2 separate regions of the Homo sapiens genome follow, and region 1 is linked to region 2. A link means that fine-mapping ties the variant in region 2 to the expression of a gene that starts in the linked region. Tissue or cell type: sun-exposed skin. Region 2 holds a variant in brackets; the other region holds the start of a gene. All regions are shown on one strand. Distances are between the middles of the regions.

Region 1 (8,177 bases), 67 kb after region 2:
AGAATAGTCGATAATATTATGAAAATGCTAAACCTTGAGGATAATTCAACCAAACACAACAGAACAATGGAATATTATTTTCAACATTTTGAAGAAAAAATGAGGTGCATAAAGACACCCAGTACAGATATGAGTATCATAAGATGTGCAGGCTTATTCACCATTTGTAGGAGTACAAATTGGGTACAGCCTTATTAGAAGGTAATTTGACAACATCCATCAAAAATGTAAGTACACATACAGGTATTTAATCTATAAATATATTTGTAATGTGTGCCAAAATAGAAAAAAAAAGTGCTTCTGGAAATACTGTAGTTGAAAAAAAATGAAAACAACCAAAATGCCCATCAGCAGATGCTTTCTTCACAACATACAATGGAATACTACACAGCAGTTTAAAAGAAATCAGTAGATCTATATGCATTGGCATGAACAAATCTCCAAGATATATTACAAAGTAAAAAAAGCAAAGTACAGAATGATGTAGCAATATAATTTCAGTGCAAATAAGGCAAAACACATATTTTAAAAATACATAAATGAGAATTAAATCATGTTTTTCTTGAAGGAATCACAAAAAAAATAGCAGATACTTTTAGGAAAAGAGGTGGAAAAGGAGGATTTTGCTTTTCAATGTATAAGTTTCTGTTGTATTCAAACTTCTCAGGCAGGTGCCAGTAGTACTTTTTAATGTAACATCAGCAAAATTATCTGAGAAGTAAGATTATGAGCCTTTCTTTCTTTTCTCCCTTATGCCTATCTAGATTAACAAAAAATTAAAATAAAAAAGATGATAGGCTATAATTATGTCATATTCCAAGGGTCTGTTCTCAACTTTTCCATTTGCGGGAGATCCCTTTCACCCAGCAACACTAAACTAAACTAAATTACTCCTTTCTGCAAAACTGGCATAGAATCACATCTACAAAGGGATGAAAGGCTCTTAAAGACCCATCTCCTTTTCTTCTGGTTATATCACAGAGTCAGCACTGAGGTGGGATGTGCCCAGGGTGTGGGGAGCACAGTAAGCCAGCTGAGCTGGGCTGAGAGCTGGGGTCACCGCAGGCCAGGCCAGGACTCTCCCTAACTCACTGCTGCAGTCCACCCCGCAGACAGACATTCATGACGTCCCCTACCTGCCAAATGCCCAAACTTCTGCCTTACCCACTTTGACCAGAAGGGTGGGACACTGGCTGGCAATTAGTCCAGACCCCTGGTTCAGATGCACAGAGAAGGCACCCTTAACATACAGAAAGTCTCCCTCATCCCCTAGGGTACACTGTCAGGGGATGCACGTCTCCCACCCTTCCATAAAACCCACCCTGCATGGGAACTTGGGGATAAAATGTGAAATGCAGGCAAATGTGTGGCCTTCCCTTCCTAGGAATGCTGACAGAGCTAGCAGGGCTTAAACACTGGTCCTCATTAGCCTCCTTTAGAAAATCCTATTGGACTCTTAAGAGCTTTTATGAGAAAAACAAAAACAAACTTTCTGAGGCTCAGCCACTGCTCAGGGCAGCCTGCAGCAAGACTGACAAGCATCACCTGAAGTCTCAGGTCTCCTAGCGCCTCACAACATATACCCTGCCCCTTGTCTCCCACAACTACTTGGCTTCCCAAATTCTCCCACCACAATAATAAATCAAACGAGTAGGTTGCCAAATGCCAGTCCGACGGTTACAAAAGTCCCAATACCCCAGTGCTGAGACTGCTGCTCTGCAGAAGGCCCCATTAAAGCCCACAGTGTGGCATTGGCTCACCTGATGGCTACTAATTGGCCCCCTGATGTGAAGACCCCATCCTTGGATCCCTCGGGTCCTGAGCAGGGGCATGCTGAGGTCCCAACTGTCCCCTTCTCACCAACCCACGCCCCCACTAACAACTGGGTGCAGAAGCCAGACTGGGGATCCTGAGGGGAAATTTCTTCTCAGGCCTGGAGACACTCAAAGATGGAAATTCTGGCCTGGGGAGTGGGGAGTGGTCGACATTTAGGGTTAGTGAGTCACAGAGAAGGAGCCATGCTAGGTCAGTCCGGGCAGGTGGTGGGCAGGGCCACCTGGTTCCAGGGACGGCCAGGAGGCCGGGAAGGGAATTGAGCTGCCCAGAATCCAGGGCGGAAGAGGCCCCTGCAGTGTTCTCGCCAGCGGCCCCAGTGAGAGCAGCCCAGCGACGGGCCCTTGTAGGCTCGTGCAGCTCGTGATCTGGGCCAGGACGCGGCGGGTCCACTCGCCTTTGCTTTCTGGGATGTTTGCAGAAGCACCGTGAAAGATTGATGCGGCCCCCTGGGTTGCGGAGCCCCAATTAGAGGCGTGACACCAGCATCTGTGCTGGGAGGATTCGGCCGGTCCCCGCGGCACGCCTAGCCCGGGGCGTCCTGGCCCAGGCGGGGAGGGAGCTGGGAGGCAGGTGGCGACGGGGCGGGGAGCTGGAGCGGGCCTGGAGTGGGGTGTAGGGAGGGGTCCAGGGAGGCCCCTACTCACCGGCAGGCGGCTGCGCCCCCCGCAGGGCGGGGACCCAGCCACCCACCAGCCCTGCTGCCGCTCCGGCCCTTTCTGGCCGGCTCTGGCTTCATGGAGACCCTGGGGCGCAGCGCTTACTTACCCTCTAGCTGTGGCGGGCAGTGGAAATAAAACATCGCCGGCTGTCAGATCGGCTGGACGGCCGAGACCTGGGAGGGTGGCAGCAGAACGGACCCGCGCGCGTTGCTCCTGCCTGGCTGCAAAGCAAACAGCGATAGAGCTTCAAGTCTCCCTCTGCCAGCGCTCCCGCCCAGCCCTAGGGCGCACCCGGCGCTCCCCTCCTGGAAAGTCCCTCCCAACGCCCTCATCTCACTGCGGGGGACAGGAGGGAAGGCGGCAGCCCCGTCGCAAGCAGCAACCCCACAGGGCAGTCCTTCGGGTGTGTCCACCTCCCGGACGGCCGTGCCCTCACCCTGGCCCCAGCACCAAACCCCGCAGCGTAGTTTCTGGCTCTCTGGGGTCCCAGCCAGAAGCCCTGCACCCGGGCCACCGCAGCCAGGTCCGGCTAGCGCGCAAGGCCATCTGCGAGCTGCAGCTCAGGCCAGGAAGGCAGCCGAGCCCCAAGGCCCGGCGCTCGGGGCCCGGCGAGTGGGTCAGGAGCCGAGCATACCTCGGCGGGCGGCGGTCGAGGAGGTCGGAGCGTGACCGCCTCCGATCCGCAAGCCCTGCTCGGCTGGCGGCGGGCGGGGCTCGGCGCGGCTGGCGCCCGCAGGACCAAAGAAGTGACTCGGGAAGTGGCCAGATGTCTTGCTGTCTGTCTGCAGCGCGCGCCGCCGCTCAGCACTCGCCTTTATAATCTCACGCATAATTGGCCTTAATCTGATTATTTCCAGCGCTGTCTACAGCGAGTAACTTGGATAGGTCTATTGGGCCTTACAAATGGCCCACGTGGTGTTAAAAAAAAAATCCGTCATTTCTCAGCAAACATCAGGAATGCTTTTTCCTCTTTTAAAAGAGAACGATACAACCACCACCACCATCACCCCCAAAAACATACATTTTCCGAAAACACACTAGGCCCCACCCCCCACCTCATGTCCCCTCAGAGGCAAACCTTTCTCCGAGAGAGCCTGGTTTGGGCTGCCCTTATCAAAGGCCTGGTGACTCCCGGGCTGCAAATTGGCAAAGCGCTGCTAATTGTCGCCGCCGGATGGGTTTTGGGGGGACTCTTTGCACACGGCTTCCCTTTCCAAACGATCGTACAAAAGGAAAGTTTGATTTTGTTCTCAGCAAGGGGTCCCTGAATTTATGTTCGCTTCTCGATGCAAATGATATGCGGTGGGACCCTTTGCAATTACTTTTAAAATGCATCCGAGGCAGACACTCAACGGAGAGAGACCGCCCTTCTCTCTGCCTGGGTGAAAATTAAACTCTAAAGTACCGGGCTGAAATTTTCAAGTCAGGGGCGCGGGATTGGATCAAATCACATAAACTGCAAAAAAAGCAAGTCTAATGGCGCATAATTGGTTCTGTAATAGCATTACACCAGGATAATAGCCCGTTACGGCCCCCTGCACTATTAAGTGCTTCCCTGGCGGAAAGCCTTTATGATATTAAAGGGGGAATATAATGATATTTTGGTTATTAAATGCGTGTAATTAATTTATGCACCACTGAAAATAAAGTTGGTATTATGACCCACTCAAGATGCATCAGAAGATGCAAGTCAGACAACTGTTGATAAGTTCTGGTGTCTGTGCTCCGTCTAGACTGCTGATTTTATTTTGGGACGATGGCTTCTTGGACAGACTACATAAATTGAATATTTTATAAACATTCTAATGCTGCGTTAGGGAGCCTTGGCGAGGTGGTGGGTCGGGTCCCTGCACGGCCCGGGATACAGCCTTGATCTTAAAGACGCAGCGCTTTGGAAACAAAAGGCCTGGCAGGCCCGCCGCTGGACACCAGCGCTGGGCAAGGAGCATCGAGCTGCAGGACAGAGCGCTGGGTCCCGGCCGCCGTTGACGCCCCTCCGAAAACAGCCGGGAGGAAGACCAGTCCCGCTCCGGTCGAGGCAAGTCAGGATCTATTCCAGTGAAGCGGCCCTTCCTGGGCTCAGTCGCTCCAGAGCAGAGTCTGCTCTGCCTCGGGGAAAGAATCACAGGAAACTTCCGCTCGTTTCAGAGCGGAGAGAGCTCGGGGCGCCATTTCCGCCAGGGCCACCGACTCCGAGAGTCCAGGCAGCCGGCCCGGGAGGAGCGGCTAGCAGGTCCCGAAGGCGGGTGAGGTGGCAGGCAGGGGCCGGCAGGGCAGCCGAGGGCCTTTCCTACGTCATGCCAAGAGGGCTGGGAGCCCCTAGAGCTGATCCTCCCTTAGCCCAGGTCAAGAGACTGGCTCGCGCGCGCTGTCTCTCTCCCTGTCTCCCTCAGAGGGCCCCTGCTCTCTGGAGCTCTTGACAAGAGCCCGAGGCTCCTCTTGCCGCCTAGGTCTGCCGAAAGTCCCCTCGGGTTCCCTCCTGCCCTAGGCAGCAGTTCCCTGCCTGTGCGCTTTGGGAACCCGGTGGCCGTGAAGTGAGGTGCGGACAGCTTCTGGGCCGCCTCGGCCAAGATGCTCAGGCGCACCTGGGGGTGTGTGCGGGAACCCTCAGCGGCAGCAGCCCAGCCCGGGGTGCAGTGTTGGCCCCAGAAACCAATGAGGTCCAAACGCCAGTCTCAGTTCCCCATCCCTGACATCGACCGAGGCAAGTTCCTATTAAGGCCCAGAGATGACCCCGGGACGAGACAGGCTCATCCGGCGCGGATGAGACAGGCTCAGACCTGCGCGGTCTGAGGACGGCGCGCTCGCCGAGCAACCCGGCAGGTCAGAACCCTGGACAGCGGCGCCGGTTTCCGCACCCCCACCCACCCCCGGCTGCTGCGGAGAAAGAAGCCGTACCGGGGGCCCAGCCGGGGCCCCTCGCTGCTCAGGGGTGGGATCCGCCCGGCCGGACCCCAGGCGTCCGGGGACCGACCCCAATCCTCTCCCAGTCCAAACCTGCGAAAGTTACTCCGGACATGCGCTCAGCGCTGGCAACAGAGACAAAACTCCCTTCTCCGCAGTACCACGCGCCGCTCCTACCCGGCCGCTGCAGCCGGAAACCATCTCGCGGCCCCCGAGGAGAGTCCGGCCGCCTCACTGACTAGATAACCAGCCGAGCTCCCTCAACACACCCACCTCGCGGGGGCTCTAAGCCGGCTTGGGACCCTCGGCCTCGCCTCGCCCGGCGCTCCTCTCCCGGAGCCGCTAGGCTGGGCTCCTTCCCGTTGGCAAAACAGCGAGTAAACAAACAACCAAACAACCTTAGAAACGAAAGGCTGCACCAAACTTTGATGACGCCAGCCCCCTTTTTTTCCGAATGTCTCGACACCCGGGAGAAGGTGACTAATAGGTGTTCGCTACGGTCCCCCTCCCCCTAAAAAAGGGCGTTAGTAACGAAAAGGTTATTTTTCCTTAATTTTTGTGCGGTAAAATGTATTTTCCAATTAACCAAATTCGCCGATCTGTCTCGCTTGGACACTCTGATAATTTACAACCTAAAAGTGTACTTTCTTTATCTAAAGACCAAGGTGACTGCTTTTAATTTTCTCTAACCTCTTTACACTTGATGTTCACCAGACTCATAATGTTAATTGGCTTCATATACGGATCATCAGTTTAATGAAGAAATAAATCCTGTGTTGCTTTATGTTTTAACAGTGATTGCTTTAATGAGGAATGTGACGTGTTCCAAAATCAAAGCTGCAGGAGACATTAGAGGGGCTTCCACTAGGACAGAAATGCTTATTTAAAGTTAAAACCGCGGGGTCATATTTCAGCAGATTCACAGTCCTCCCCACCCCCTCCCCCGCTCCCCGCCCTCACCTAGCCTGCCTCCCGCCTCTGTAGGGAGACAATCCTGGGTCCTCAGTGCCCCTTCTCTCCGCATCTCATACCCGCAGCCACAGCATCTGCATTCCCGAGAATCATTTCCTGGTTGCTACATAGGGTGTGCTACTTTGCCTCCTGTCCCATAGGGAAGAGAGAAGCCAGCTCAGGGTGGGGAGTTCAACTTTCAAAGTTGTTCATGTTTTTAAAAATAAAATGGGAAGACAGTAACACGCCTGAAGACTGGCGTGCAGATGTTGTTACAGATGCAGCTCCCCCAGAGCCGCATGTCTTAGTGCTGAAAATTCGAGGCTTGGCTCCCAAAGGCTGACAGCTCCAGCTCAGGCCCAGTGAGTGGGCTGCTGACCCCCCAGGTTCTAGCCACTGCAACTGTCTGCAGGGATGCGCTAGGCTTCTGCCCAGGTGATGGAAGTTTTACATCTCTATATCAATTAATAGCAGAGTAAATCTGCTTTCTCTAATGGGTGTTTGATTTTTCTAATTTTAAGCTGGTTCTATGAAAGGAAAACTGTCATCTCAGAAACACTAAGAGCAGCAATAAAAAGCTGGAAATGCGAGCATCTATCTAAGCCCTCAATTGTTTTCAGTTGAATTATGAATCATTTTAAATTGATTCCTGAAAAGAATTCCAAATCCTTAGAAAATGTAGGGGTTTGAAGGCTCCGAGTTGGGTCTTAAATACCATACATAGTATTCATTTCTTACTGTTTGCCTTGTTTTAGGAAAATTGGGAAAATATTTGGAGACACCTCTGTCCTCATCTTTTGAGCCCAAATACAAAAATATGTGTTGGATTTGACATCTTAATTGTGCTCAGAAAGGATTTTCACAACCTCCCTTTTAAAACTTTCCTTAGCAGAAATGACTTCAGTACACATGGCTTAAACCCATAGCAAGAGGGTAAAGCAGGTAAAATACTTAAATTATCAGGGAGGAAAAAACCACACTGAATTCCTAATTATATGTTTTGGAAGGGCCCAGGTTTGATATTTTTACAAATGTTTTAAAGGCTCTCTAGCATAATCCCCGGTGGATATATCTCAGTGTGAATATGGCGTATTCTCTACTTGTCGGCAAATCTATCGTTATATTGTAGTTTTGGAAATTGCCAAAAAAGTTAGCTTAGCTAAGCTAAACATGAGAGAATATGTGAAGGACATAGCAGTTAATGGAAATTCCAGATTTCCCGGGGACTTAGGAACAGAAAATATATATACACAACAAGGGATAGATATGCATTTTATCATCCTGGAAATTCCCTATAATTCACTAGTTTTACTGCCATATAAAACATAGTAGCTGCTCAAATGCAAGCCAACTTCCAATAACTTCACCTGTTCTTGTCCAGTGACCACAGGACAAAGTATATTCCCATGTGGTTCCCAGGGATCTCAGAGCTCAGCTTCAACCTTTGGCCCTGTGTTTGCTGCAGAGCTTGGAGGGTTGCCCATGGCCTCCTAACTCTCACAAGGAAAGAGAGCACAGCCCAGGAGGAAGGCCCACCACCTGCAGAGTCTGTGCCCCTGCCTCCATTCAAGCAGGCTTCGGTCCTCAGGAGACCAGTGAGCTTGAGCAGGTCACTTACTCTCTCAGGACATCCCTCTCTCATTGTGTGACATGGGACAACAATGCCACATCAAGTGCTGGAGGGAGGATTAAAAGACAGTGCCAGCCGTGTGCGGTGGCTCACGGCTGTAATCCCAACACTTAGGGAGGCCGAGGCGGGCAGATCACAAGGTCAAGAGATCGAGACCATCCTGGCCAACATGGTGAAACCCTGTCTCTAATAAAAAC
Region 2 (8,177 bases):
AAACACCAGGTTTCAAGAGTCACTTTTTGTCCACACCCAGAGCAGGGCCCCCTGGCAGAAGACTGGTCCCCAGTGAGAGGGCGAATTCCCCCAACCCCGGCTCCCCCGGGGAGAGCAGTGCCTGCTCCCCTGCTGCCAGCAACATTTGGGAGGAGTCTTCCCAGGCCCCTGGAGGACCAGAGCTGCTTCCCGAGGAGCCTAATCAAGCCAGCCCCTGGGCCAGCTCCAGTCCTGCCAGGGTCACCCGGAGGGAGGACCTGACCCACGCCCTCGTGTGGGAGGGCGGCTCTGACCCCCTACTTGAGCTGTCGGCAGAAGACCTCCGGACCCTCTCTCCAAGAGGTTCATTGCTGGATGTGGCCACCAGCCCAGCAGGCACCTCTGGGAGACTTGAGCTTCCTGCACAGCTAGAGAGGACAGCAAGCAAGCCACCTGCAGTCCCACCCAAAACAGAGAAAGCCCTGCGGCGGGCAAAGAAGCTGGCAAGTAAGAGGAGGAAGACGGATCAGGCTCAGGAGAAGCATGGCGAGTCACAGGAGGGAAAGCCCTGCCCGGAGGACTTGGAGCAGACACAGCAAAGGCCGCTGTGCCCCAGAGAGAGGCCCCGACACAATTTCCCCGTGGTCCGTTCCCTGCCCCCTCCCGTGCACCGCCACTCCGTGTCCGGCTTCTCGGAGCCTGTCGGGAGGCGGCCCGGGGGCCCCCAGTCCCTCACACCCCTGCCCGCGTACCCCGCCACCCAGAAGGTCCTCCAGGATCCGCAGTCCGGGGAGTACTTTGTCTTCGACTTGCCACTCCAGGTGAAAATCAAGACCTTCTATGACCCAGAGACGGGCAAGTATGTCAAGGTCTCCATCCCGTCCTCCGAGGGGGCCTCCCCAGAGCCGCCCCCACCGGACGCCCTGGCCGCTCCCTATGTGCTGTACCCCGGCTTCCAGCCAGTGCCCGTGACGGCCTTGATGCCGCTGCGCTGCTCCTCTCAGCTCTCCGCGCCCACCTTCCTCAGGCAGGGCCCTCGTGCCTCCGCGGCCCGCGCCAGGACCCAGAGTGTCCACGAGTCTGGACTACAGCTGGACCCAGGGCCTCACGGTGACTGCACCCCGCACTCTGCAGGCCAGCGCCCTCATGGTCCTCCCCAGAGCCCAGGAGAGGAGGGTGTAGAAGCTCCAGGCCTGGGCATCATCTCCACTGATGACCTAGAGGACTTTGCCACAGAAGGCATTTCTTGAGTTACTGCAGGCTGTCCCCCACCCCCAGATGAACCCAGAGGAGCTTACTTCCCCCTCCCCCAAAACAAGCAACACACACACACACACACACACACACACACACACACACGATCATCAACACATACTTAGCCTTTTTAGATCCATAAAGTCCAGAAGGCAGTAGGGATCCCAAGACGACCTCACCCAAAGGGCTCCCTGGCTCTCCTCTGATGGAGGGGCACTGCTTGCTTGGCCCGGTCCCCTCCGTGCCAGTTCCCAGGCGCACTCTACTCCAGCCCTTCTCCCTCCCTCCCTTCCTCCCTCTCCTGGCCCACCCTGCTCTTCCCTCGCCCTGCAAATTAGGTGGGTGTGGCAAGGGCACCGCCTGGTCCCAAGTGTCCCTCTGTACCCACACCCACCCACTCACTTGTAAGCTCCTTGATGAGCAAACCCCTAAGGCCCCCAGCTCAGACTCAGCAGGCATTCAGGTCAACTCAGGCAGACTGGCTAAGGACCAGCCCAGGGCAATTTTGCAGAAATGATCATTTGCACAGAATGGGTTTCCTTCACAGGGAGAAACTTGCCTCTGAAAGCTATTTTCTGATCAAGAAAAGGCCCACTTTTTAAAAAGTGAAACAAGTTTGCAGATACGGTTCTCTTCCTGGACTCCTGTCTTCCTTCTGTGGGCAGTAGGGGTCAGGGCTGACAGAGCCACCTCCCTGTCTACCACAGTCTGAGTCTGGCGTCCCACCTTGTCCCTTCAACACCTGTCCATGCCTTCTCAGGGCCAGGCCCTCCAGTGGGTCCTGACTGCCCTGATTTAGTAACCAGTACCTGTGCCCTCCACTCAAAAAGAAAGTGTGTTCACACCCTCACCCCCCATCAGTTCCTGACCTTTGGGGATTTGGAGGGAAGTGTTGGGATTAACTGAAGAGTTTGAGAGTTTTACCTAATGAAACGGATCCACTGGCCCAGCACAGTAAAGCCAAAATCCACACTGAGGTTTGCAGTGGGAGAAAGGAGGGTGTTTATTTGCAGGGCACCAAGCAAGGGGAATCAGGCAGCTCACGCTTAAAACCCAACCTCCCCCGTGGCTTGCAAGCATGGATTTTTAATGGCAAGGGAAATGTTCAGGAAAGCCAAAGTTACAGGTGAAATTGTAAATCAACACATGGAGGGTACACATTGGTTCGGCCTAAAAAGGCAGGATATCTTGAACCAGGGACTTACGGGTCATAGGGTGGAGTCAAACATTTTCTGAATTGCAATTGGTTAAGGAAGAGAAGCTTTGTTTTAAAATTTGGGTTAGCAGAAAGGAATGTTAGCTCTGGCTTGTGGGTGGGACTTCCCCCAGGCCCCCCAGGAAGAAATATAGAACAAAGAGCCGTGCTCAGAGTTCAGTCCTCAGCTCCCTCTTCTCTGAGGTCTCTGTGCCAGTGGATCCGTTTGGTGGGGGTCTGGGTTTCTGAAAAACAACTCGGAGTCAGAAGTTGAGATGTTCTTTTTAATTTCCAGAGGGAACAAAACACCCCAGGACTCTGGCTTCCTTCGCTGTTGTTTTAGGTTATTATTACCTTCCTGCTTATCAAGTTGTTCATTGGCTTCTTAGGGCTAGCTAAGTGCCTGGAATTTCCCTTGAAGGAAACCAAGATTTTCCTGTATTTCCATGGTTGGGGAGGGGACCCTGCTCGATCTTCAGAACAGGTGCCCTCTTGCAGGCAGCCGGCTAGGAAGGAAACCAGCACCCAGGGTATTGATAGGTTTCCATGCCACGGCTTCTACAGAAGCCTCTTAATTCTTGTTCTACTGGAAACACAGGGGCAAAACGTGCCTCCCTCTTTGTTTAGAAACCTCAGCAGCTGCCAGGACTATGCTGCCCAGGGCCCAGGGGACCATGCAAGATGCATTGTCCTTGTCCTGTTGGCAAAGGCGCCATTTCCACACTGGGAGGATGGGGAGGCATTCAGTAAACCAAGTCCCAGACTCACACAAATACAGGGGCTTTGATTTGGATTCAAGATTTTATACCTTTTTGTTTTCCCAACAAGTGCAGCCACACCTGATTTTCATTGTGAAAATACCACACAACGCCCCCTCCTTTCCTCCCAACCAATGCCATTCAATTTGGCCACACC[T/C]GTTGCCAGCCACGCAACCAGCCAGGAGTGCAAGCAGATCACTATCCCAAAATCTGGTTCCCATGAGTCGCTCACTGGGTGCAAGCGACAAGAACAAAGCTGCATTTTGGCCTGCCTCCAAATCACCTCAAGCATCCTCTCCACTTTGTTTTCATCTCACTAAAACATGAGAAGGAATATCTCATTTTGCAATTCTCAGGGTCCAAGGAAAAGAATTGTCTAACGAAGGAAGAGTCCATCTGTTCAATAAGAACCACGGTTATAGTAACTATGTCCCCACAGGAGAAAATATTACTTTGGGGAACTTATTTTGGGGAAGCGATCTTCTTCCTTAGAACCAATATTGGCAAGGCTGTGGGTAGAACTAAACACATAAAGTCTTGCTCCCAGCAAGTCAGCTAGAAGGACGCCTCACTCCCTTACAGCACTGGGCCTGTCTTCCTGAAGCACAGAATGCCTCCAGGGAACACAAGCAGAGAGTCTCCATCCAGTGAAGCCCAACTCACTAGCCAGTGATGTTTTCCTCTTTCCATTTGCTCCTGAGGGAGGTCATGTATGCCTTCTTCCTTCCTCACGCCCTCCTTCTTTCTCCCTTCCTTGTTTCCCTCCCTCTCTCCTTCTCTCTCTTCCTTTCTTCTTTCCTCCCTCCCTTTTACAAACATTTGCACTGTGCCAGGCACTTTGATGGGCGCTGATGGTACCATGACAATAAGATCTGGTCTCTGCACTCAAGGAGTTAAAATCTAACAGAGAAGAAAGATAATTACAATCCCACATGTTACGTAATTTAATAGGTTGTTCTGAGGAACACCTAACTTGCTCTGGCTTCAGGGGTTGGCACCTGAGCCAAGTCAAGAAACACAAAGCTGTCCATTAATTTATGAAAAAATTCAGAATTTCCCCAGCTTTAATCTATCAAAGATGACATTGATTAAATACTAATAGATTTGTCTTGCTATATCAAAGCATATTAATTTAGCTAACTGTTCATCAGCATTTCTAATCAGCACAAAAGCTGAACCAGTGTAGCCTCACAGGATAGACCTTGGTTGATAGGTCTTTCAGCTTCTGAATTGATATTTCACTCACAGGGGTTGCCCAGCAAAACCACTATTTCTGCCATTGTGTTTAGTAGGACAGTGGTGAGATTTATGACAACATGTTGTTTGTGGAAATTACAGATGTTGTCTGCATCTTCTGTGTAGTACCCTGGCCCTTTTCTATGAGTATGACCCCTCTAAATGTCTCCTGGGGAGAGGACATGGAGGTGGAGCACCTCCAGGAAACAGTTGAAGGTCCCGGGTTGTTCAACTAAACATGACCAAGGGCTCACATTGTCAAACATGTACCATGCGCTGGCCCATGAGTGGGGAGCTTGAGCCTGGACTTGGTCCTCCCAGCAAGCCCTTGAGAGAGGCCCTCATTAGCCTCATTTTACTGTAAAGGAAACAAAGGTGCCAAGATGGGATGTAACTGCCCACGGTCACAGAGCCACTAAGTGAGGGGCCATGCCAGGGTCTTGGGCCCCTCTTACTTCTAGGTGGACTCTTTAATACTCAACCAGTACTTCGTAAGTGCGGTCCCTGCAGCAGCAGCCTCCACATCACCAGGGGCTTGTGAGAAGTCCAGAATCCCTATCTCCATCTTCACAAGCTTCCCTGGGTGGTTGATCCATTTGTGCATTGAATTCTAAGTGCTGTCAGTCTCTGCTTAGCCTGTATAAATTTTGGGGAGGTGCACTGGATGTCTTCATGTCTCCACAGCAATGTCTTGTGCAAAGGAAGAGAGCAGCACATCTAGGTGGGGGAGTTGCAGGGAGATGATTGACACTCAATGTGAGAAAGGCATCTCTGAGGACGAGCATCATCTTTTTTTTTTTTTTTATTTGAGACAGAGTCTCACTCTGTTGCCCAGGCTGGAGTGCAGTGGCTCGATCTCAGCTCACTGCTACCTCTGCCTCCCGGATTCAAGCAATTCTCCTGCCTCAGCTTCCTGAGTAGTTGAGATTACAAGTGCGCACTACCGCACCTGGCTAATTTTTGTATTTTTAGTAGTGACGAGGTTTTGCCATGTTGCCAGGCTGGTCTCGAACTCCTGACCTCAAGTGATCCACCCACATTGGCCACCCTAAGTGCTGGGATTACAGGCGTGAGCCACGACATCCAGCCACTAGGATCGTCTTGACATTACGTCAACTGCTAGGGATAACTGAGCTCCCTGCCACTGGAAATGTACAATGGAAGCTGATGACCCCTTTCCTAAGACAAGGATGGATTCAGGTATCAGAAGGGACCTAACTATCTTTTGGGACCCCAGGCTACTTTTGGGGCTCCAGTATGCCACCGGCAAGGATGCAAGGTCTCAACAAGGAGTGGCCATAGGCACATGATGGAAAACATTTGCATACAAAAGGGGAGCTCTGTGGCAAAACCTGAACTCTGTGCATGTAGGAAACATTTTGGCCTAGATACACCATGAAGTTGAACACACCTGTTTGTACAGGTCTTCCAAATCATTCAGATGTGAAGTCCAAAGTGAGTGGAGCAAACTCGGAGCCACATCCCTGAGCTTGTCACCACCAGAGTCTTGTTTAGGCTTCCTCAGTGTCACCTCACAGAGCCGCCTGAGCAGAGGGGTCTTCCCTTCCACCAGGTGGATGGGTGGGCTCCTCCCTTAGCTGCTGGCTTCTAGCAGAATGCTCCAGCCTGCCTGGGCCTCAGAATCATCTGTGCACTTGTTAACACTTGTTATTCATCCCAGCCCTATTTCCAATTCACCTCATCAGATTCTCCAAGTGTGGGAAAGAGTCAATGCAGAGGTGCAAATTCCCGGGAGTTTCTGGTTAAACCAGTCTCACAAATGCCACTCCAGAGCACAGTTCCACATCTGGGCCCCACATACTGGCCAGGAGCTGCCAGGCCCAGAGTTCTGCTCAGGGGAAACACCCTCCTGTGGAAGGTTATGTGGAGGTAGGACCTGGGGCAAGAAGAACTCAGAGGCACTACTTTCTTCATGTGGAAGCGGTGAATGGGGAAAGGTATGACAGCCCTTGAGGGCCACCCAGTGCAGCCTCCAGCCCTGCGCAGAGCCACCTGGCCTGCTTCCTGCTGCCACACCTTCCTCTCCTCCTCCAGGTGTGCCCCAAAGCTCTATCAGGAGGCTACTCTTCCACAGAAGGGAGGAGGGGCATTGTTAGAAATAAAGACTTCCCTTTGAAGGAAAGTTCAAACTTTCCCTCTGAAGGTTCCATAATTGAATCTGCTGAGATAAACTGACAATAGACAGATTAACCAGAGAAAAGGCCTACAAATTTATTAACATGCAAGCCCAGGGGAGTTGCACGAAGTGTGCAACTCTAAGAAGAACCAGATGGTTGAAACTTAAATATCCTCTTTGTAGAGGAGAGGGAGTTGGGGGTTGCAATTCTGAGGAAGAGTAAATGATTTTTTAGGGAAGATAAATGGGTCCAAAGAACAGACAATGGCCTAGAGCAAAGTTCCCCTGGGTCCCGGGTGTGGTATCCACTCCAGTCGTCTTTCCAAGCCTTCTTTCCTGTAAGTTCATCTCTGTTTGACAAGCTAGGGAAGGGAGTCCAAGACAACTGCATTCCTTCTGGAGGAACTTCCCTTAGTCAAGAAAGCCCCTCCTTGCCCTTCGGGAGAGGCAAAGAGGTGTGGGACAGGGTCTAGAGAAGGTCAGAGGGACCTTGGTTCTGGGGCTGCTTCTTCAGTTCAAAGTATTCAGCATGTCAACGCACCACACTTTAGGGTAACACTTTAAACTGGGTGAAGCCTGGGGCTCTGACCTACGCAAGTAGATGTCCGAGGATGAAGGTGCTCCACTAACCACTATCCCCAAACAGGGAGTTAACCTTCTTGTGCTCATCATTTGCCAAACTGTGGTTTAGTTTTTAAGTCTTTGCACTGTCTCAGAATTTTTCTCGAGCCTCAGCTTGCTCTGGGCACTGTCACATGGATGCCATTTCCCTGGGTCCTTGTCTGGCATCAGTCCTGCTCCTGGGTCCCAGCCCCAACTCCCACCGCTTGTGGCCATCCTTCCTGAGCTTCAGAGCCCTCCCTTAGGCCCCTTCATGAGAACATTGTCAGCACCTGCCTTCCTGTCATTCGTGATCATTCTTCTATTTTCCTCTGAATTTGGAAACCTTTGGCTCGTGTGGTCCTCTTTCCCATTTACAAAGGCCATATACGTCACCAGTCTCCTTTGGCATTCCCGTGCTTTTACCAGCCCATTCCTCCTCACTGATGTAGCCTGAAAAAGTCAGCAGGCCAAGTCAATAGTTAATCGAACAGTTGGCTTCTAGCAGAGACTGCCAGCCAGTGCTGACAGAAGTGGAGACCTCGTTGCTGCTTTCTTGCACTTGTAGTCTTCATGTACTTGTGTGAGGAGTGACCCCTGCACAGGGCAAGGTGATCGCAGTGCCCCCACCCCCCATCTGTCCTGACTCACACACAGTTACTACATCTCCATGCACAGGGCAAGTTGATCTCAGTGGGCGCCCCCATCTGTTCTGACCCACACACAGTTACCACATCTCCACTGTCCAATGTGCTGGTTTCCCAAAAGGCGGATACCTCTTGATTGAAACCTTTAGACCAATGCTCCACATCACTAATCATTAGGGAAATGTAAATCAAAACCACAATAAGATACCACCTTATACCCAATGGATGGCTACTATCAAAAAGAAAATGGAAAATAGCAAGTGTTGGCGAGGGTGTAGAGAAATTGTACACTGCCTGGTGGTCCAAGCCATAGTCCTGGTTGCCATCCCACCTGCTCCCAATCTCTTGCCCCCAATTCAGTTAGGCCCCAA

Direction of the effects. Positions count from the first base shown, and alleles are read on the strand shown. Sizes are in standard deviations (SD) of each study's normalised expression.
With allele C in place of T in region 2, the expression in sun-exposed skin of the gene that starts at base 3,284 in region 1 is higher (small effect, 0.36 SD a copy in GTEx).

The links. PIP is the estimated chance that this variant, and not a neighbour inherited with it, causes the effect.
Region 1: DRGX starts here. The variant in region 2 is fine-mapped to the expression of DRGX in sun-exposed skin (GTEx, PIP 0.94).

What each region holds. Positions count from the first base shown.
Region 1 is chr10:49,392,806-49,400,982 of GRCh38, forward strand. It overlaps DRGX (dorsal root ganglia homeobox), which reads right to left and starts at 3,284. Exons shown (of 7, transcript NM_001276451.2): 1 at 3,130-3,284; 2 at 2,602-2,716. The coding sequence starts at 2,635. RefSeq lists a silencer at 5,299-5,458.
Region 2 is chr10:49,325,625-49,333,801 of GRCh38, forward strand. C10orf71 (chromosome 10 open reading frame 71) reads left to right here. Exons shown (of 3, transcript NM_001135196.2): 3 at 1-1,868. The coding sequence ends at 1,229. Among named protein-coding and RNA genes, the nearest start is that of C10orf71, 31 kb to the left of the region's middle. The variant T/C (reference allele first, on the strand shown) is at 3,344.